2 separate regions of the Homo sapiens genome follow, and region 2 is linked to region 1. The links come from fine-mapping of genetic effects on gene expression. A gene starts in region 1. The other region holds a variant in brackets. All regions are shown on one strand. Distances are from middle to middle.

Region 1 (10,611 bases):
TAAAGGGCTAAACAGTAATCATGCAGCAAAGGCAATGCATTGGGACTTTTCTACATAACTCCTTGTTTCTTTCAGGTAAAAAAAAAAAAGCAAATCAAAAACAACTTGTTTCATTACTTTGTTTTATTTTTTGCACTGAATAACCTAGGTTTGAATCTCACCCTGGATACTTATTAGCTGTGTGATTTTTGGCATTTTATCTAACCTTCTTGTGCCTCGGTTTCTTTAATTGCAAAATGGAGTTAATGATACTTCCCATATCCTGGGGGTAGTTTGCTGATTAAATGAGATAATTCATGCAGAATGCTTGGTAAGGAGCTCTGCTCACAGAAGACTTGCTCAGTAAATGTTAGGTCTCATTATGCTTATCATCATTTTAATTTCAAATGAAATCCATAGAGTATAAGACATAGGCATAGTACTCTTGAGTGTCTTTTTTTAAGACTTTCCATTATGTACATTTTCAAACACAAACATTTAGAGATACTGCTGAAATTTCCCTACCTCACATGCACCTATGCTAGCATTGACAATTATCAATATCTTATCAAATCGATCTTGTTTCACATAGCTCCCTGTGTTTTTTTCTAGAACATTTTAAAGCGAATCCCAAACATCATGTCATTTTGCCCATAAATTTGAGTGGAATAGAGCTGATAGTTACTTTGGAGACTGGCTCCAGAGGAAGGCAAGGAAAGAGGAAGTAGGACAGAATGTAGTGGGAACCTATTATATTCCAAAAGACTAAGATGTTAGTCTTTTTGATACTAACACCCCGAATAAGCTGAGGGCTCTTTGGGACTACGTCTTCTTCACCTCAAACTCCAGCTTGAGGAGGAGGTACCAGCAGCTAGTAAAAGTTCTACAGATGCTTGTTTAATTAGTGAATGAACAACCCAAACTTAGCTTTCTTCACTTTTTGGTGGCTGCTCAATGAATATTTACCTAGTGAATAAATGAGAGCAGGGATTTTATAGACTAATACATATGGAGATGCACATAATTTATGAAATCAACACACGTTTTTAATACTTGGGTGACATTTTGCAATACTTGAAATCCTACAGGTTTAATATTGTCATGAACATTAATAATGCCCAAATAATTAGCACTTGAAAGAAGGTTTCATTCTGATACTCAAATTATTTGTGAATGTCTGACTATAGGCAGCTTCATGAAAAGCAATTGGCAGATTCTTCAAACACATGACAAATCTTTTATTACTGTGCTTATAAGTGACACGGTTTACGGAAAACCAAATGTAATTAAATAACATTGAACTTGAAATCTACCACAGAGTCAAGATATACAAGTTATACTTGGCAAGGCAAAATTTCTCAAACACTAGGTTGTTTCAGGTGAAAGATAAATTTCAATTAAGTAATTCCAACATGTTTTGTTTTTTGTCTTACAGACAGTTCCTTTGGCAATAACTTCCACTTTAGCTTTTATTATATAAAAATATAACAAAATTTCATTATATACAAACATTACATTACACAATGTACAGGTTAAAAACACTAAGAAAATGGCAAGCCGCAATTGAAATCAAAGTCAATAGCATAAGAAAAATTAAATACTGCACACATTTCATAAAAATTACATTAACTACATTTTTGTTTGCAAATACCAAACAGTACCAATGTGATTGGAAATAGCTTCCAACAACTTCATTGTAAGGCACATCTTGCATATTTATATATACAACACTGAAACCGGTCAATAACTTAGGGGCTTCTCGGAGTGACCTGTATATGTGTGAAGACATGCAGCATGGGATTACACATTTTCATTGGCTCCCTTCTTCGGGGACAGGTACCTGCCAGGAGGGGACTGGTAGAGGGGTACTCCAATCTCCTGCAGGTCTGGGAGCCTCCCTGGACGGGGAGGGGAGAGCAGAGTGACTGTCCTGTCATAGTCTCTGTGCAGTACTTTCTCATAGACGCTCTGCAGCCCCACTGTCTTGGGCAGCTGGGCCTGGTAGTAATTGTCCCTGCGCAGAGGATCCCGAGGCAGTGACGTGCTCTTACAGAAGGTTGACATCTGGGCTGGTGGGTGAGGCGATGGATGTGCGTTGGGCCCGCTGCAGGATGGGCTCCAGCAGCGGTCAGAGTGGCCCAGGATCTTACACTCAGCGGTGCACGCCCACAGTCCTAATACGAAAGGGAAAAGGAAACAGCATGACGATTATTCCTGAGATTATACATATTCAGGCTTCCATCTTCAGCATGTCAGCCTGGGTCAGGGCAGCTGAAAGGAAAGGCTGTGCGCATAGATATACACCGTGTCTCAAGAATCGAAGGCACATTGCTTCCTGTAAAGCCATCTTAATGCAAAGCTGGTCCAGCTTCTTCAGCTGGAAGTGAAAAAAAAAATTGATAAGCAGAACCCACTTTTTAATGGCTAGCATCACCCATGCTGCTGCCTAACAGGATGAGGGTGTGTTTTATTCAAGAGCTGGAGTTGCCTCGACTTGGCATTTTGAAATTCACCGTGTGAGGCAGGCCCGTATCCGCAGCTGTAGGAGTGAGAAAAAGTGGGGAAGAGGGAAGGGGGCTGGGAACCGAGATTGAGAGGAGGCAAACAGTGGTGAAGGGGAGGGAAGGGAGGAATGCCGAATTTGGCGGGAAAGAAGAGTCCTCACCACTCTGCATGTGGTTGATGAGATCCTTTTTCAGAGCGTCCCCGCTGATGTCGGAATCGCTGTCGTTGAAATCACTGTCCCCTTTACCGCTGTCTTTGCCGCTGAACTTCTCTGCTTCTCTGCCAGAAATGGTGTTGAAGGAGTGTCCTTTCCACACCGCCACAGGGGGCGCCGGCTCCTTTCCAAAACCCGGGGAGGCACCGTAGGGCTGCAGCAGGGAATAGGGGAATGGGAGTGGGGGGAGGGTTGGATAAGAAACAAACAAAAAACAAGTGCGACAGGTTGTCTACCTGAATGCACCCACCCTACCCCTCCAGTCTCCCTTCCCCCAGCCTGTCCGCGGAGCTCGGAGGGGGGCGCCCAGCCGAAGGAAGGCCTCACCTCGGCGTGCGCGCCGCGGAGCCGCTGCTGCCCCTCGAAGTGACAGGCGCTTTCCCCAGTGGCGCTGCCGCCCTCTGAGCCCGGCACTTCGGCCGCGGCGACCGCAGGCGGAGGCGCGTCCGCCGCGGGGCTGCCAAAGGGCGCTTTGCCGGTGCCAGGGAAGGTGAGCACGTCGAACATGTTGGGCCTGGGCCCGGCTCCCCGGGCGGCCTCCTCCGGGGAGCCGGGAGCCGAGGCTCCGCCGCCCGCCGCCCCGGGCCGCTCTTCCCGGAGGGCCCCCCCTTTGCGCACCTCCTTCTTGCGGCGGTTGCAGGTGGTGGCGATGGCGATGATGGCGGCCAGCAGCAGCGTGCAGCTCCCGGCCAGCACGATGATGACGATCAGCGGCGTGTCCCATTGCAGCACCGACCCGGACACCCCGAGCCGAGAGCCAGGCGGGCGGGAACGCTCCGGGCTTCCTGCACTGGCAGGCGCAGCCGGCCCACGCCCGCCCCCTGCTGTTACCACGAAGCTGACAGTTGCGGTGGTGGTGAGCGGGGGACGGCCGCCGTCGGATATGACCAGGAGCGCCCTGAACACGCGACCGGGTGGCTCCTGCGAGAGGTCGCCGGTGAGCAGTATCTCCCCCGTGCGGCGGCCGATGGCGAAGGCTTCGCGCGGCTCCTGCTGCTGCAGCTCGAACGCCAGCTCCCCGTTGGCTCCCTCGTCTGCATCCCGGGCCTGCACACGGGCCACAACCGTGTCCTTTGCGGTGCGCCCAGGCACCGCCACTTCTAGGGAGCCATTGGCTGGCGCCGGGTGCACCAGGACTGGCGCATGGTCGTTCTGGTCCAGCACGCGCACTTGCACTAGGGCGCTGCTGGAAAGCTGAGGGGAGCCGCCGTCGCTAGCTTGGATGCGAACGTCGAGTTGGCGCAGCGTCTCATAGTCGAAGCTGCGCAGCGCGTAGATGGCTCCGGTAGCTGGGTCCACCGAGACATAAGTGGACACGGCGCCCCCGGCGCGGCCCACCTCGGCCTCCAGCAGCCGGTAGGTGACCTGGCCGTTGCGGCCCAGGTCCCGGTCGCGGGCGGCCACCGTGGCCAGGTAGGCGCCTGGCGGGTTGTTCTCGCGCACCGACACCTCATAGACCGGCCGCGTGAAGAGCGGCGCGTTGTCGTTCTCGTCGCCCACACGCACCGTGTAGGGCCGCACTGTGCGCAGCGGGGGCGCGCCGCGATCCTCGGCCACCAGCGTCAAGTTGTACTCGGCGATGCGTTCGCGGTCCAGCGACGCCGCGGTCACCACCAGGTAGCTGCCCGCGTAGGCCGGCTGCAGCCGGAAGTGCTCGTGCCCATAGAGGGCGCAGCGCACTTGCCCGTTGGCGCCCGAGTCCCTGTCCGAGGTGCTGACCAGGGCCACCAGGCTCTCGCGCGCCGCCCCCTCCGGCACCAGCGAAGTGGCACCAGCCTCCGGCGTCCCGGCTCCCGCCGGCGAGCTAGCGTCCGCTCCCCCGAGTGCAGCGGCGGCGGCGGCAGCGGCGAAGGGTGAGGTTGCCGGCGCGCCTGGGGCGGCCAGCGGGGTGATGGCGATGTCGGGTGCGTTGTCATTGACGTCTCGGATGCGCACGATGACCTTGCAGGTGGCAGCGCGGGGCCCGGGTCCGCGGTCCTGCGCCCGCACGTCCAGCTCGTAGGTGTCCTGACGCTCGTAGTCCACGGGCCCGGCCAGGGTGAGGCGGCCTGATCGCGGGTCAAGCCGAAAGAGGCGGCGCGCCTCCGGCGGGGTGCGGGCGCCAAATGCGAACACCACGTCGCCGTTAGGTCCCTCGTCGGGGTCGGCTGCGTCCAGGTCGAGAAGCAGGGAGCCCACGGGCGCGTCTTCCGCCAGCTCCACTTCGGCCACGGCGCCCTGCGGGAAGGCCGGGCTGTGGTCATTCGCATCCAGGACGCGCACGCTGAGGGCAGCCGTGGCGGAGCGCGGCGGGCGGCCGCCGTCCTGGGCCACCAGCTCCAGGCTGTAGGCGGCCTGGCTCTCGCGGTCCAGCTCCTGCAGCAGCACCAGGTCTGCGCACTGAGCGCCGTCCGCTCGCGTCTGCAGCTCCACGCGAAAGGGGCTGTGCGGCTCGGCCAGGCGCACGGTCTGCAGCCCGTTGGCGCCCACGTCCTCGTCCACCGGCACCTCCAAGGGGATGCGCGTGCCCACTGCCGCACCCTCGGACACCTCTACCGGGATCTGGGCCCTGGGGAAGCGCGGCGCGTGGTCGTTGACGTCCCTCACCTCTACCTCCACGTGCACCAGCCGGAACTGCTCCTGCGAGAAGCTGACCACATCGAAGGCCAGCACGCACTGCGGGGCCTGGCCACACAGCCGCTCGCGGTCCAGGCCGGCGTCCCCGACGGTCAGCTGCCCGTCGCCTTCGCGCACCCGGAGCAGAGAGCTGTTGAATTGCTTCATCAGGCGGAAGCTTGTGTCACCCGATACTTTCATATGCAGGTCCTCGGCCAGGGTCCCGATGACCGTGCCGGGGGCATCCTCCTCGAAGGTGCTGTATCGGACTGTTTTGCTCTGGGCCACTGAGAGCACCCAGCAGAGGCTGAAGAGCTGCAAGGGGAAAAGGCAGGGGCTGCCCCAACGCCTCACAGGACTCATGCCTCCAGCCTCAAGTGCGATCCGAAAGGCTAAGGAAGTCTTCTCTGGTTTCCAGGTCGGGCGTCAGTCTCAGGCTCTCGGAATCACGCTCTTTGCGAGCCCTGTGCGGGAGAAGTCTGCGGGTAGCAGCTCCGAGCCTCCAGCGGGCTCTGAGGACGCGCGGACCCGCCCTCACTCTGCGCCTCTCCGTCTCTTACAGAAGCTGCGCCGCCTCGCGCCGCCTTTGCCTTTATAGCCGCCGATATGCTAATCACCCGAGCCGGGTAGCCAATGGCCGCCTCCCCCTCGCGTCGCCCCTCCGCCTGCCTCTGACAATCCCTTTAATGTGGAAAGGCTTAGAGGGGAAAACAAGAAAGGAAAATTAGGGAATCTTTCTTTTGTTTAACTCCTTTTGCTTTTTCCCCCTTTTCTTGTCAGCACCCTGCATGTAGAGGAGTTGGCACAGGGCTCCAGGAGTAAAAGGAGCGGATGGTTTTGTTAATTGTCGCCTGCCTCCCTCCGTGCCGCGGCTAGAACTAAGTGCGAACACGCTGGGGTTTCACCCCAGTGGCTCCTGATTCCGCCTTCCCCCAGCCCCTGCCAACACACACACTCTGCATTTTGCACCTCTGACGCTTCCAAACCCTTGCAGCCCCCTACCCACAGACTTGCTCTGCTGAATGAGGCTCTGCTTTCCTTCTCTCCTAGCTACGGTGCCTGGAATAGCCTCTCGATTAAGAAGCCTGAAGGATAAGGGAAAATTGATTTTATTCAAATTTGTGTACTCAATTGTGTTTTGCTCGTGTGAGCCCCAGTGATCAGAGCTGCCACTTCCCTTTCAGAAAAGAGCCCCGCGATATGTTAGTATGCACGTCACTGTCCAAGTGGCCTTCTTAAGCCCTGGGAGCTAGCAGGCAAGGAAAAAAAAGTTCCAAATAGGATTTAGCATAAGCTTGAGGAGATTTGGAAAGGTTTCAAAGATCAGACTGTATCAAAGGCTTATGAAGCCCTCGTTAGCAGTGGAAATAGAATGGTGTGGCAGGCGATCCCATTGGAGGCCCCAATGTCTGTATTATTTCACTGTGACAAGCTAAGGGGAGAGAAAGTTGAACAGTTTCCACAGCGGAGTTGGACTAACTTGAATATAATGAGCAAACGCCACATGTATCCATTATGTTCCTCTATTCATCCCCAATCACTGCCATAACTCTCCGGCTAAACGGTGATGGGCGCTGAATTCCACACAATACCCGGCTCGTATTAAAGTGCATTTAGAGAACTTTTTCCTCCTGATGCCTTGTTCCGCCTATTTAGAGGATTTTCTTTCTGTTCTAATAGGGCCACTCTGGGAAGCAACACTCGTCCGGTTCCAGAAGAACAAAATCACAGCGTGACGTTGAAACCTGGCAGGAACGTGGGGGGAACTTAACCATCTGCTTAGGAAAGTGTGGAGCTTCGGCACTGCCAAAATCTGGGCTGGGCGGATCCTGGGGCTGGCCGGGCGCTGCGCTGCCCCACAGATAGCCCCCTCCCATCCCTGACGGCCAGGGAGATGGAGCTCGGATCTGCAACAAGACGGATTCTTAATGATTCTTACTGAAGGGCTTTATTGAGCAGGCTATGCAAATACACACGAAGGAGGAAAGGTAAAAAACAAAAGCCACTCACTGGAAGAAATTTTTCTTTTTAGGCGATAGGTTTGGTAAGTAGATTGAATTCAGTAAACATTCTTCAGAATCCCGATTTTGGTCCTGCTGTCAGCGTCCTATCCATGTTTTCCTTTCCCTCAAACTCGAGGGAGTGTGTTTTGGGTTTTTTTTCAGAAGAGGGTCAGGAGTTTCCTTGGAGTAGGGAGACCAAGCAGGGAGCTGGGTGGCAGGGATGAGAGGTGCTTGGAATTGTCAGAGAGCGGAACATGCAGCTCCAGCCATCCATAAATACAAGCTCTTATAAGACTGGGGAGGGGGATGATGAGTGGCTGGAGACTTCCTCAGAGGGGTGTGTCTCTGGGTTCCCTTCTCCACCTCTTCCACCTTGTAGTCTTGGGAATGCTAAAAGCAATAAGGCCAGGCATCTGCAGCCGCGTGGGGACGTGGAAGGAGGAGCGCCCCCTACAGGAGCCCAAATCGCAGCCCTTTCTTCCGCTGTCTTCCATCTCCCAAGTGCGATTTAGTATGTAGCCCTCCCACCGTCCCCGCCCAAGAGATATTCCTTGGGGGGTACACGCAGTCGAAGGAACTTTCTATTTTCCTTCCGAGCCCCGCAACACTCCCACCCCAACCTGGGGCTGGCTGGTGACCTTTAGCGCCCCTAGGCTAACGTCATCTCTCCTCACCCCTCTTCCCCCGGAGACCCAGACGGGAACAGGTTCAGAACTTGGCTGGTGGACAGCGGCCTCAGCGCTTCCGCTGGCGTACCCAGGGCAAGGTCAGGCCCGCCTGGCGCTGCTGCTGCCGGGCGGAGGACCCGGAAGGTGGGGAAAGTGGGTGGAAATGGGGCCGGAGTCCCAAAGGAAGGGATTTCAGCGGTTTCCGCGAGCACAGCCCGGCCGCGAATGGCTGGGACCCGGACCTCGCGCCAGCGCCCCCTGCGCATCTGCACCCCGCAGTTCTGGGCTGGACTCGGGAGCCCCGCCACGCGCTAAGTTTGGGTTTTTCGCTTGGCCAGAGATTCGGAACTACTTGCAATTTCTACTCAAAGTGCTTCCGCGTCAGCATGCTCATTCTCAAGGCTGAAATAAACCAAGGCGTGCTTGAAAGTGGGAAAAGGAAAGGGGAGTAGGGGCAGGCAAAAGCCAGGAGGCGGGAGGAGGGGTGTAGGGTGGCTGGTAGCAGGTCTAAAGTGTTTTTTCCGCGGCCAGGCCCTCGTCGATCGGAAGTAGCCACGACGGCGGCGGCGCCGGGAGGCTGAGAGCTGGGAGCCGGGGAGCCCGGGAAGGGAGCCGCGAGCCTCCAGCCGCCACCGGCGCGCACAGGTCTTTCCGTGCCGGCGGTGGAGGTGTGAAGGCACGCGAACACCGTGAGCTCCGGGCCGGCAGCGGACAGCCACTCGATTATGGAAATACGATTTAAAATAGCACATCAACGTCCGCAGCAACTCCCCGGGAAGGAAAATATGTCCGGGGAGGTGGCGCTGGAGAGGAGTAGGGGAAAGGGAGGGGAGCTCGCCCGCCCGGGTGCTGATCAGGCCTCACAAAAGCCGCTCGAATCGCCTTGTTATCATACCAAAAGGTCTGGGCAGGCCCAAAGGAGCCCCTTTCTCTCGGTTTTAGCAACTTCGCCGGCAACTGTCTCGCAATCTTGAGAACAAACACAGCTCCACAATGGCCGGCGTTTTCTCGGAATGCAAATGTTGCGGGCTCCGCAAAGCTGGGTTTCTGTTACCGAGCCTAATGCCGGCATTGTGAAACTCGCGTGCAAACACCAAGATTGACATGGGCGTCACGTGATGGATTAGGGCTCCAGGAAAGTTTTCAAAGAGGCGACAATGGGGGGCTCAGACTGATCTGATATCTCCCACAGTTTAGCGGGAAAGAAAATCAGGATATATTCTCATATGTAATAGGATTATCTTGTCCATTTCAAGTTCTATACAGCATGTAATTTATTTTTAATTAGGATTATATCTACCAGGAAAGGGTACTAGACTTCACTGGAAAGTGTAATTCTAAGGATGGATGAAGAGGGGTTATTTTTTAAACTTTTACTTTTTTTTTTCCTTTAAAAATAAGCCCAGGGCCCTGGTTTTTCCTCCTACAGGCTCACCATTGGGTAAACCCCTCAGGGAAGTTTGCAGCAAGTGCTTGGCCAAGCAAAGAACAGAGGAAGCTCTTCGGGGCATCTAATTCATTTTTGTAGTGAAAACACACTTTGCAAAAATCTCATCAAATTCTGAAGCCTCTGGGTTTTCTGGGGTTGGTGCACTAGAAATGCAACCAAGCTGTTTTCTACACTCCAAATTCTTTTTTTTTCTTTTTTTTTAAAGTTATCTCTCTCTGTGTGTGTATTTGTTGGGCTGTCAGTATAGGCATGGTGACTTTTAAACTGTATAGTAAACCACAAAGCAGCATTCTCCATAGCCCTGATTCAAATTCAGCAGTCAGACAATGAGACAATTTGGGGGTGAAGGTAACTGTTATTTAAACATTGATTTTGGATTGATTCCAGTGCCAGATGCTCACAAACCCTGGATCATTTCCAGATCTTGGGCCACTCTTCATTTTGTGTGTTCTGTGTGTCACTCTGGGAGACCTGCTTTACCTGATAAGAAGCAGAACGCAGCTGTTGACTGCAGGATCTGGAATCATCCTGCTTGGGTTCAAATCTGATCATTACACTGATTGGCTGTGTGACCCGTGCAAATTATTTTCTCTCTGTATTGTTTTTTGTTTTTGTTTTCTGTTTGTTTTTTGAGATGGAGTCTTGCTCTGTTGCCCAGGCTGGAGTGCCCTGGCGTGATCTCCGCTCATGGCAAACTCTGCCTCGTGGGCTCAAGCGATTCTCATGCCTCAGCCTCCTGTGTAGCTGGGATTACAGGCCTGCACCCCCACACATACCCAGCTAATTTTTGTATTTTTTGGTAGAGACGGGGTTTCACCGTGTCACCATGTTGGCAAGGCTGGTCTTGAACTCCTGACTTCAAGTGATCATCCTGCCTCAGCCTCCCAAAGTGCTGGGATTACAGGCATGAGCCACGGCGCCCGGCCTGTCTGTATCTTAGTTCCTTTATCGGCAAAATGGGTATAATAATAGTACTTTGCAAAGTTGTTTTGAAGACTGTGTAAAATGATATAATATCAGGTGCTTAGGAACACATGTTAGTTTTTATTTCCCTTTAAAGCACAGGGAAGAAACATCAAAGACTATGTAATCTAAACCTCTTATTTTATAGGCGAGGGATTTGTTCAGAAAGAAAAATAACTCTCCCATTTCCTGTCTGCTTCTTTGCTTTGGTGACAACTGTCTCCCCAATTCCCT
Region 2 (10,611 bases), 21 kb before region 1:
CAACAACAACAACAAAAAAAAAACCAGATTTTTTTTTTTTTTTTTTTGAGACAGAGTCTCACTCCACCCAGGCTGGAGTGCAGTGGCATAATCTCAGATCACTGCAACCTCTGCACCTCTGCCTCCTGGGTTCAAGCGATTCTTCTGCCTCAGCCTCCCGAGTAGCTGGGACTACAGGCATGTGCCACCATGCCTGGCTAATTTCTGTATTTTTAGTAGAGATAGGGTTTAGCCGTGTTGGCCAGGCTGGTCTCAAACTCCTGATCTCAGGTGATTCACCCACCTCGGACTCCCAAAGTTCTGGGATTACAGGTGTAAGCCACCATGCCTGGCCTAAAAAACAGATCTAAATCAAATAAACAACCCACACATACCGCATGCACACACATTAAGGTTGGAAATAAAGAGATGGGAAAATATTTCCCAGGAAAAGTTTGACTAAAAGAGCAAGTATGGTCATTTTGGTATCAGATGAAACAATGTCAAGGTCAAATGCATTAAACCAAATCAAGAACAATATTTTATATAACCTGGCTAGGAAGTGCAAGCAAATCAACTGACAAATAGTTGGATCCTATAAGATAGGTCAGTAAGATGGCTAGGCACAAAATTAATCTCCACAAATTAATAGCTTCTCTATATACTAGAAATAACTAAGAAAACAAGAGGGATAAAAGATTCAAATCATATTCACAACAATAAAATGCACAAAACACCAAGAATACTGATATGATAACCCTAACAAGAAATGGGCAAGAGCAATAATGAAAAAAACTATAAAATGATGATGACAACATTATTATAAAAACCAAGAATTGAACCCTGAAAACAGAGACACACCCAAAATGGAATTACTCAACATTGTAAAGATGACAGTGCTCCCCAAGGCAGTCTTTGGAGTCACTGCCATCCAAATAAAATCCCCAGAATTTGGTAAACATATACTAAAATTAATCTGGGGGAGAAAAAGCATAAGAATAACTGGGAAACATTTTGATAAGTAGTGGAGGAGAGGCTTGCCCTACCAGATATCAAAATATGGTCCTCAAGTTTAAGAATTAAACTTGTGCAAAAAGTGACAGATTAGTAATACAGAATAGAGGATCCAGAAACACAAATCAATTTATGGCACTTTAGTTTTTGATGAAAATGGCATTTCAGGTAGTGGGAGGTGATGTTCAGAACAATGTTGGGAAAAGTACCTATTCATTTTGAAAAATAAAGTTGGAATTTAACCTTGTGCCAACACAAAAATAAATGGGTGAGGTATTAAAAAGCTAATCATAAAACCTAAACTTTAAAATATTGGAAAAATAGGAGATTTAAGAAAAATTATGCTGAAATGGAGAAAGCCTTCTTATGTAAGACACAGATTAAAAAAAACAGAAAAGAAAAAATGGGTAGATTTGACTACACAAAACAAAACAAAACAAAACAAAATCCAAGACACAAAAATTCTCTGTGGGAGGTAGTATTTGCAAGATATAAAATACACAAAGGATTAATGTATATTATACTTAAAGAACTCTCATAAATCAACAGACAATCAAAAAAAAATGAACAAGGGACGTGAATAAGCAATTCACAGTAGAAGAAATACAAAAGTCAATATATATGTGAAAAACACTCAACATTATTAATAAAAGGGAAATGCAAATTAAAATAAGAATGTGACATCAATTTTTATCCACACTAAGATTGAACACAAATTTTAAATGATAGAAACCATTCAATAATATCACATATATATCAGTAAGCTTTTTGGTTGTAGGTAGCATAAACACATGATTTAAACTGCCTTGAAGAGTTAGTGAATTTGTTATTTGACATAACCAAATGTCTACAGATATGGCCACTTCCTGGTGTGGTACCTTCAGTGACTTATAATGACCTTTCTTTAGTGCTCTGCCAAACTTCATCCTAAGGCCGTAACTCTTAAGAGTGGCAAAAGGGTTAAGCCTGTTCCAGATACCACATCCAGTCCTGAAAAGTTTCACAAGAAGAGGGGATCTTTTCTCTTGTGACTCTTTTAGGAGTAAGGAAACCTTTCTAGAAGTTTCCCCAGGCACATTTTCCTTCGTGGTTCATTAGCCCAGAATTGGGTCACATTTCCCTCCCTAAACCCATCTCTGGAAAGGGAAATGGGCTTATCCTTATCACGTGGATAAGGAGGCATCCACCATGACCACTTTAACAAGGGCATGGGGAAATTGGTACTCTTACTCGCTACTGAATTGGTTCAGCCCATCGGTATCTTCCAAAATTCAAAATTTGTACATTCTTTGAATTATCACTCCAAGGCATCTCTATAGCTGCAGAAATACTGGCATGTTGCATCAGAAACATTTACAAGGGTATTCACCACAATGATGCTTATCTTAAAAATTGGATATCCTCTGAATACGCATCTATAATGGAATGGTACATTCACACAGTGCGATATAAGCAGCAGTTTCAAAAACTCTTTAAGGCATAAGTGAAAAAATCAAGTTATAAAACTGTTACATTTATGTTATAAACACACTTAGAGATAACTATTTGCATACAAATGCATAGAGAAGGCACTCAAAGGATACATGCCTTACTTTCAAGGAGGAAAGTCAGGATGTGGGGTATGTAGATGATTCTTCTTATTTATTTGATTTTTTAGTCTTATCATAGTGGCTTAGGCCATAAAGACATTTATTGTATTGACATTTATGTATCTTACATAAAAGTCTGGAGGTAGGTATTTCATTGTATGCGTGTGTGGCAAGGCAGTGATATTACTAAAGACCCCAGCTCTTTTTATCTGCTCAGCCATTCTTAGCATATTGGCTTAAACAAACATTTTTATTGATACACATATTTGTACATATTTATGGAGTATATGTGATATTTTGTCACATGCATAGACTGTGTAATGATCAAGTCAGGTATTTGGGGTCTCCATCACCTCCACTATTTCTCATTTCTATACGTTGGGAACATTTCAAGTCCTCTCTTCTAGCTATTTTTAAATAGAATACATTGTTGTTAACTACAGTTGCCCACTCTGCTATCAAAGATTAGAACTTATTTTTTCTATCTAACTGTATATTTATACTCCTTAAGCATGTTGGCTTTTTACTCAGGTTTATTACAAAGGGTCCCAAACTTTCTGGTCTGTAGTACCCTTAGTGTCTCAGTGATTTTTTTTTAATGGTGCCACTAGGCCAAAATAAATACCTAAAATTTATGTTTATTGGGTAATTATTAATAGGTCCAAACAATTTAGTAGATATTCATGACCTAATAATTGAGTAGCCATTTGAAAAAAATAATACACACAAATTGAAAGACAAAGTATTTTCATTTCATTGGTAAATAACTGTAATTATTTACTAATGGGATCCATAATTCTGATGGGCACTATACAATTTCTTGAACTTTACTGCTATCCTCAACTCCCATTGCATTTTCATTTTTGCACAGTACTTTAAAAAAATTACAACTGCTGAAAACCGCATTTCACAAAGATATGCTATCAAAAGGAATTTAGTGCAATCTAATATTGAAAGTAGGAACTGTCTGGATCTAGCAGTTTTCATGATGCTTGATATGTTATCACTGTTTTTAAAATTTTCCCCTGCAAATTTACATTGTGATGCCTCTGGAGTTCACTGTAGCATTCCAGGGTGCCTCAGTGCATGGTTTGGGAATTGCAGGTTTATCATCTTGTAGCTGCAGGATGGTTGTCTCAGCTCCAAGCATGCATCTCTGTACAACAATATTCATGGAGGAAGAAGGTACAAGCTTTCTTCTTACTTCTTTCATTCCATTTCAAATTTATTGCAATAGAATTTCATGTAACAAAGTTCACCTATTTTGAGTATATGGCCAGATAAGTTTTGACGAATGTATACATCTGTATAATCTTCACTACAATCAAGATACAGAAGACTTTCATCACCCCAAGAAGTCCTTTTGAGCCCTTTTCCACTCAATCTCCCCACCATCCCCCAGTGACTAGTGATCTGCTTCCTATCACTATAGATTAAATTGATCTTTTCTAGGTTTTCATAGAAATTAGACACAAAGTATGGACTCAGGTGCTGCATACTAATTCTAAGACTCATCTATGTGGTTGCATGTATCAGTAGTTCACTCCTTTTCTTGCTGAGTAGTAGTCTGTTGTTTGACTATACCACCATTTGTCATCCATTCACCTGCAGGCAGACATTTGAGTTGTTTGCAGTTTAGGGCTGTGATATGGTTTAGCTCTGACCCCACACAAATCTCATCTTGAACTGTAGCTCCCATAAACCCCACTGTCATGGGAGGGACCCAGTGGGAGGTAATTGAATCACCAGGGCAGGTTTTCCCATGTTGTTCTCGTGATAGTGAATAAGTCTCAGGAGATCTGATGGTTTTATAAAGGGCAGCTCCCCTGCACACACTCTCTTGCCTGCCATCATGTAAGATGTGCCTTTGCTCCTCCTTTGCCTTCCATCATGATTGTGAGGCCTCCCCAGCCATGTGGAACTGTGAGTCCATTAAAACTGTTTTTCTTTACAAATTACTCAGTCTCAGGTATTTCTTTATAGCAGTAGTGAGAGGTGAAAACGTGCTGGCAGCCCTTGCTCACTCTCAGCACCTCCTCGGCCTCGGCGTCCGCTCTGGCCACGCTTGAGGAGCCCTTCAGCCTGCCGCTGCACTGTGGGAGCCTCTCTCTGGGCTGGCTGAGGCTAGAGCCGGCTCCCTCTGCTTGCTGGGAGGTGTGGAGGAAGAGGTGCCGGCGGGAACCTGGGCTGCATTCGGCGCTCGAGTTCCGGGTGGGCCTGGGCTCTGCGGCCCCTCACTCAGAGTGGCTGGCCGGTGCCGCTGGCCCCGGGCAGTGGAGGGCTTAGCACCCGGACCAGCAGCTGCAGAGGGGGTGCCGGGTCCCCCAGCACTGCTGGCGGGACCACACCAGGCTCGAATTCTTGTGGGGCCTCAGCTGCCACCCTATGGGGCAGGGTTCAGGACCTGCAGCCTGCCATGCCCGAGCACCCCCGCAGTGGGCTCCTACGCAGCCTGAGCCTCCCTGATGGGCGCCACCCCCTGCTCCACGTCGCCCGGTCCCATGGACTGCCCAAGAGCTGAGGAGTGCAGGCGGGAGGTGCGGGAGTGGCAGGCAGCTCCACCCACAGCCCTGGTGCGGGATCCACTAGGGGAAGCCAGCTGGGCTCCTGAGTTGGGTGTGGACTTGGAGAACCTTTATGTCTAGCTAAAAGATTGTAAATACACCAATCAGCACTCTGTGTCTAGCTCAAGGTTTGTAAACGCACCAATCAGCACCCTGTCAAAACAGATCAATCAGCTCTCTGTAAAATGGACCAATCAGCAGCATGTGGGTGGGGCCAGATAAGGGAATAAAAGCAGGCTGCGGAGCCAGCCCCGGCAACTCGCTTGGGTCTTCTTCCACAGTGGAGACTTTGCTCTTTAGCTCTTTGCAGTAAATCTTGATGCTGCTCACTATTTGGGTGCGGACTGTCTTTTTGAGCTGTAACACTCAAGGGGAAAGTCTGCAGCTTCATTCCTGAGACCAGCAAGACCATGAGCTCTCCAAGAGAAATAAACAGCTGCGGATGTGCCGCTGTAAGAGCTGTGACATTCGCCGGGAAAGTCTGCAGCTTCAGTCGTGAAGCCAGCGAGATCATGAAGCTACCAGAAGGAAGAAACTCAACACGTCCGAATATTAGAAGGAACAAACTCTGGACACACTATCTTTAAGAACTGTAATACTCATCGCGAGGGTCCGTGGCTTCATTCTTGAAGTCAGTGAGACCAAAAACCCGCCAATTCCGGACACAGTACGAAAGTGGACTAATACGGGCTGGTGTGAGTAAAGCTGCCCTGAACACTCGGGGACAAGTCTTTGTGTGCATGTATGTTTTTATTTGTTTTGGATGATGTCTTTCTCTCTTTGTAGAGGGCAAAATTATTTCTAGAATCCCCGGACCAGACTTTCACTTATGTATCATTGGCCAGTCCTAGTCACCCTCTCATCTCCAAACCAATACCTAAAAAAGGAAATGGAG[G/T]CACATTGGAGCAATCCCTTGACATCCTTTGGGGTTGGGGGATTGAGGTCCTCGCAGGAGCGAGTTGCCTCCCTGAATAGTCAGCCTTACCAACACAGGAAAAAGGAAGGAGTAATTTTTGGGTATGCAGCCATCCGTGTCTGTCACATTACTTTACCCGTGAGTATTTTTACTACAGAATATAGTAGTAGCATTATTTACATTTCACAGTGAGAGTCTTTTCTCTGACATAAAGGTGCTTAAGCAGATCCATTGCCAAGAGATATTCAACAATAGTCGTAGGAATAAGCAGAGAAGAGACAAACATAAAGTTGACAGAAAGAGAATTGCTCTGGGGAATATGATATGAGGGCACAAGCATCATATGGAGAGAATTTTACCAACTGGCTGCCAGATGTGGGCCTGCCCTGGGCTGAGGCACAGCTGGTCTGCCCTACAGTAAATCAGATGTGGGAGGCAAGTGCCATCTGGCACGTAAACTTGGCAGAGCCTGGAAAGACAAGTGAACTCACGTGTGAAGTACTTATTATTATGGATGAACATGAGCAGAGCTCTGGCACCAGCAGCAGGGCGAGCAGTTTCCTTCACCTAGGGTCTTAGGTCTCATCTGCTGCTGCCACAGCGCGGCCAGCCGAGGGACTCCCTGGCCCTCAGCACCTCTTCTCTGGTCGAGGCTGACTTTGCTTTAGTTATGAGGAGCTAAGGAGTTTGGCCCTTTAATTTCAGCCCTGATTTAGCATTTCTGCCCTTTCTCACTTCTTCCCTTGTACTCTCTTCCTAAGAGTTTGTTTCCCTTTGCTAAGCTTCTCAAGTGCAGGGACCAGATCTTGCATATTGTATTCGCTGTTTCTGCTCCTGGCATTCTGCCTTGCACAAAGTAGGTGCTCAACAAGGCATTGCAAAAATGTCTTCGCCACAGATAAAGACCAGAGGGAAGTATTGTGAAAGTGGTATTTCCACCCTCCACTGTTTGCATCTATTTCCAAATACCGGTTGATTGGTAACATCTAAGACGGATCACAGCAAATATTGTACATGTTTAGTGCACAATTCGGTTAACATTGCCCTAAAAGATTCCATTAACCATAATTCTGATATATCCACTACTAAGAATCGTAAAATGTTCGAGCTGAAAGGCACTCTAGAGATGAGCATTTACGAGGCCCAGAGATTTGAAGGACTTGCACAAGGCCATATTGGAAACAGAACAGAACAGTTATCTATAACCCACTTTATTCCTGCAAGAATTTAAACTGGGTTTTAAGGATAAATAAAATATAAGCCAGCAAAATTACAATTAGGAACAAAAGAACGTAACTTAAAAATGAGCTTGAGAGTAAGATCAAAATAGAAATATATACCAAAAAGGGAGCCTGCAACAGGTTAGCCCCAAACTTGGCTCTAAACATCTATATATCAAAACAGGAAAAGAAACGTGGTTACGTACAACTTTCATGATGTGTATGAAAGTAAAACAGACCAGTAGCTCCTAGAAGTCTAATCACTGTTGGTACCAGTACTTGACAGGCATCAGCCATAAAAAGAGCTCCGTGGGTGGCCGGGCGCGGTGGCTCACGCCTGTAATCCCAGCACTTTGGGAGGCCGAGGTGGGTGGATCACAATGTCAGGAGATTGAGACCATCCTGGCTCACACGGTGAAACCCGGTCTCTACTAAAAATACAAAAAATTAGCTGGAGGTGGTGGTGGGCACCTGTAGTCCCAGCTACTCCGGAGGCTGAGGCAGGAGAATGGTGTGAACCCGGGAGGCGGAGCTTGCAATGAGCCAAGATCGCGCCACTGCACTCCAGCCTGGGCGACGTAGCGAGACTCCGTCTCAAAAAAAAAACAACAAAAAACAAAACTCCGTGGGTTATAACAAAGGTCCTCAACAGTATCCCAGTGATGCACAGAAAAAGCATCCCTTAGTGCAGGGATGGTAGCTGATGGCAACTAAGCAAAGCTCATTCTGGAAAAAGCACTCTATGTGGGCGTAGGGGAGAACTGAGAACCAAATCCAGGATTACCAGTCGTAGAAAAAAAGTTTGCCAAATTGAGATGTGAAAGAATTGAACTCAGAATTCTGTGACATCAGGAATACAATAATAATTACTGTTCTTAATTATGACCCAGAGGCACTGTAGGCTCCAAAGTATTTTCTGAATCATCTAAGAAAATTTTTTTTAATTTCAATCTGGTTTCATATTAATTTAGAACTTAATTAGCTACTATCATCTGTTCTAGCTGTTATTTCATATGTTTGTTTTATTCCCTTCAATTAGATTGTCATTTTCTTGAGGGCTGGGGTCTGCATATAGGGAAAGTGCCAACTTACTTGACAAATGTAACATGAATCCCCTAAAGTTGACTGTAGAGGTGAAATCTCTGCATGAGGAAGGACAGCTGGACTTTTTAGCCCTGATTCTTTTGAGCTCTTTGTGAATTTCTGTTTCTATCATGAAAATAGGAGGTGGTACTGCTTTCTCCACTAATACCATCTCTTATTCCAGTCCCTTAATATCCCATGGCAGATTTGAGACTAATTTTGAATATTAAATAACACCTTATAAAGAGGCCTAAAATAATAAGAGGAAAATAAATACAGCATGTGAAACTACAGAATCTAGCTTACAACCATTACCAACAATGACTAACATCAACATCAACAGGTACTGACAATATAATATAAGTATTTGGAACCCAGATCTGGAGCCAAACTATTTGGGTTCAAATCCTAATTCTACCATTTACTAGCTGTTTAACTTTGGACAGGTTGCTTAACCTCTCTGTGCCTCATTTTTCTCATCTTTAAAAAGATAACTGTACTTATCTCACAGAGGTATTGTGAGGGTTAAATGAACACTTATAATAGTGCTTGAACATAGTAAATATATATTGGCTATTAATGTTATAACTAGGCACTTTTTATAAGCCACACACTTTATATATAATATTTGTTAATTTAACCTTCACATGATGCTCTACTTCAGTAGTTCTCAAATTTTTGGTTTGTAACACTCTTGAAACTTATTGAAAACTCTGAAGAACTTTTGTTTATGAATGTTTTATGTATATATACTTACTGTATTAAAATTAAAACTGTGAGATTCTTAAAAATATTAATAACTAATTTAAAATGATGAGCCCAATACATATTAACAAAATAATATAATTACTACAAAAAATAAGTATCTTTTCAAAACAATTTTATGAGAAACGGGCATTATTTTACATTTTTACGAATTTCTTTAGTGTCTGGCTGAATAGAAGATAATTGGATTCTCATAATTGCTCCTGTATTCAAGCTGTTGCAATATGTTGTTTTGGTTTAAGTATATGAAGAAAATCCATTATCATACAGACATGTAGTTGGAAAAGGGAAGAGTATTTTATTAGCCTTTCATTTAATTGTGGCCCTCTTTGTGATCCGCTATACCAAAACTTTACAAGTGGTAGTATTTTACAGATTAGTGGCCCTGGAATCTGAAACCAGATCAATGAACTTTTCATCCCTTGTTACATTGGTCTGTCTTGCACTTTAAACAGATCATTTACCTATGCATGACTTTGTGACATCATCCACTGTCCACTGGGAAAATACTGATTCACTGAGTCATGTAGATCAACTAAATTTAGAAACATTAACATTTGTTAGTATTATTACCAGCAGAGAGCTCTGTCTTTTCTTTCTTTCTTTCCTTATCTCTCTCCCTCCCTCTCTCTCTGTCTCTCTTCCTTTTTGAGATTGGGTTTTGCCATGTTACCCAGGCTGGTCTCGAAATCCTAGGCTCAAGTGATCCCTTCGCCTCGGCCTCCCAGAGTGTTAGGATTACAGGTATGAGCCACTATGCCCAGCTGGGCTAGTGCTTTTCCTTGAGACAACCATAGTGCTTCTGAACACAGCAGAAATGTTCTCTGCATACTGTCCATTTTGTCACACAGAACATTAGTGTTAAAAAGACATATACTCAATGGTTGAGATTTAATGAAAGTAATACTTATTACTGATTCATCAAGGTCATTCTTAAGGACTTTTTTCTGTAAGTGCAAGAAATCCAGTGATTAGTAGTGTGGCACTCTTATTTTGATTGGTGCTAGGGCACCAGTAGTAGTTTCACCCACTCTTTCTTTTGTATCATCAGAGCAAATGTCAACCCAGTGAAAAAGGCAAATAACATAGTAGTATTATGAAAATTGTTTTATCCTAGTGGACCTTCCAGAAGATTCTAAAGAATCTCCAGAAGTCCAATGATTGTACTTTGAGAAACACTGCTTTAACCTTCTACCTCCTCAGGGTTACTGCAAGCCCATCCAGAATCTTTTACATCCAGACCTAATAGACTGAGAACTAGTCCCGTCTCAAATCTACCTAAAAGCCACTGTATTAGTCAGTTCTCACACTGCTACAAAGATACTGCCCGAGACTAGGTAATTCGTAAAGAAAAGAGGTTTAACTGACTCACAGTTCTGCATGCCCAGGGAAGCCTCAGGAGACTTACTATCATGGCAGTAAGGGGAAGCAGGCACGGCTTACATGGCAGCAGACGAGAGTGTGTAGGAAGCAAAGAGAGA

Alleles and levels. Alleles are on the strand shown, and positions count from the first base shown. SD is a standard deviation of normalised expression in the study named.
For the expression in thyroid of the gene that starts at base 5,860 in region 1, allele T in region 2 goes with a lower level than allele G (moderate effect, 0.44 SD a copy in GTEx).

Evidence for each region. PIP is the estimated chance that this variant, and not a neighbour inherited with it, causes the effect.
Region 2: its variant is fine-mapped to the expression of PCDH8 in thyroid (GTEx, PIP above 0.99).

What each region holds. Positions count from the first base shown.
Region 1 is chr13:52,842,781-52,853,391 of GRCh38, forward strand. PCDH8 (protocadherin 8) reads right to left here and starts at 5,860. Exons shown (of 3, transcript NM_002590.4): 1 at 3,026-5,860; 2 at 2,645-2,852; 3 at 109-2,153. The coding sequence starts at 5,656. The coding sequence ends at 1,780. RefSeq lists enhancers at 4,045-4,933, 4,934-5,823, 5,954-6,248, 7,594-7,888, 8,563-8,772.
Region 2 is chr13:52,821,529-52,832,139 of GRCh38, forward strand. No RefSeq gene overlaps it. Among named protein-coding and RNA genes, the nearest start is that of MIR759, 17 kb to the left of the region's middle. The variant G/T (reference allele first, on the strand shown) is at 6,042.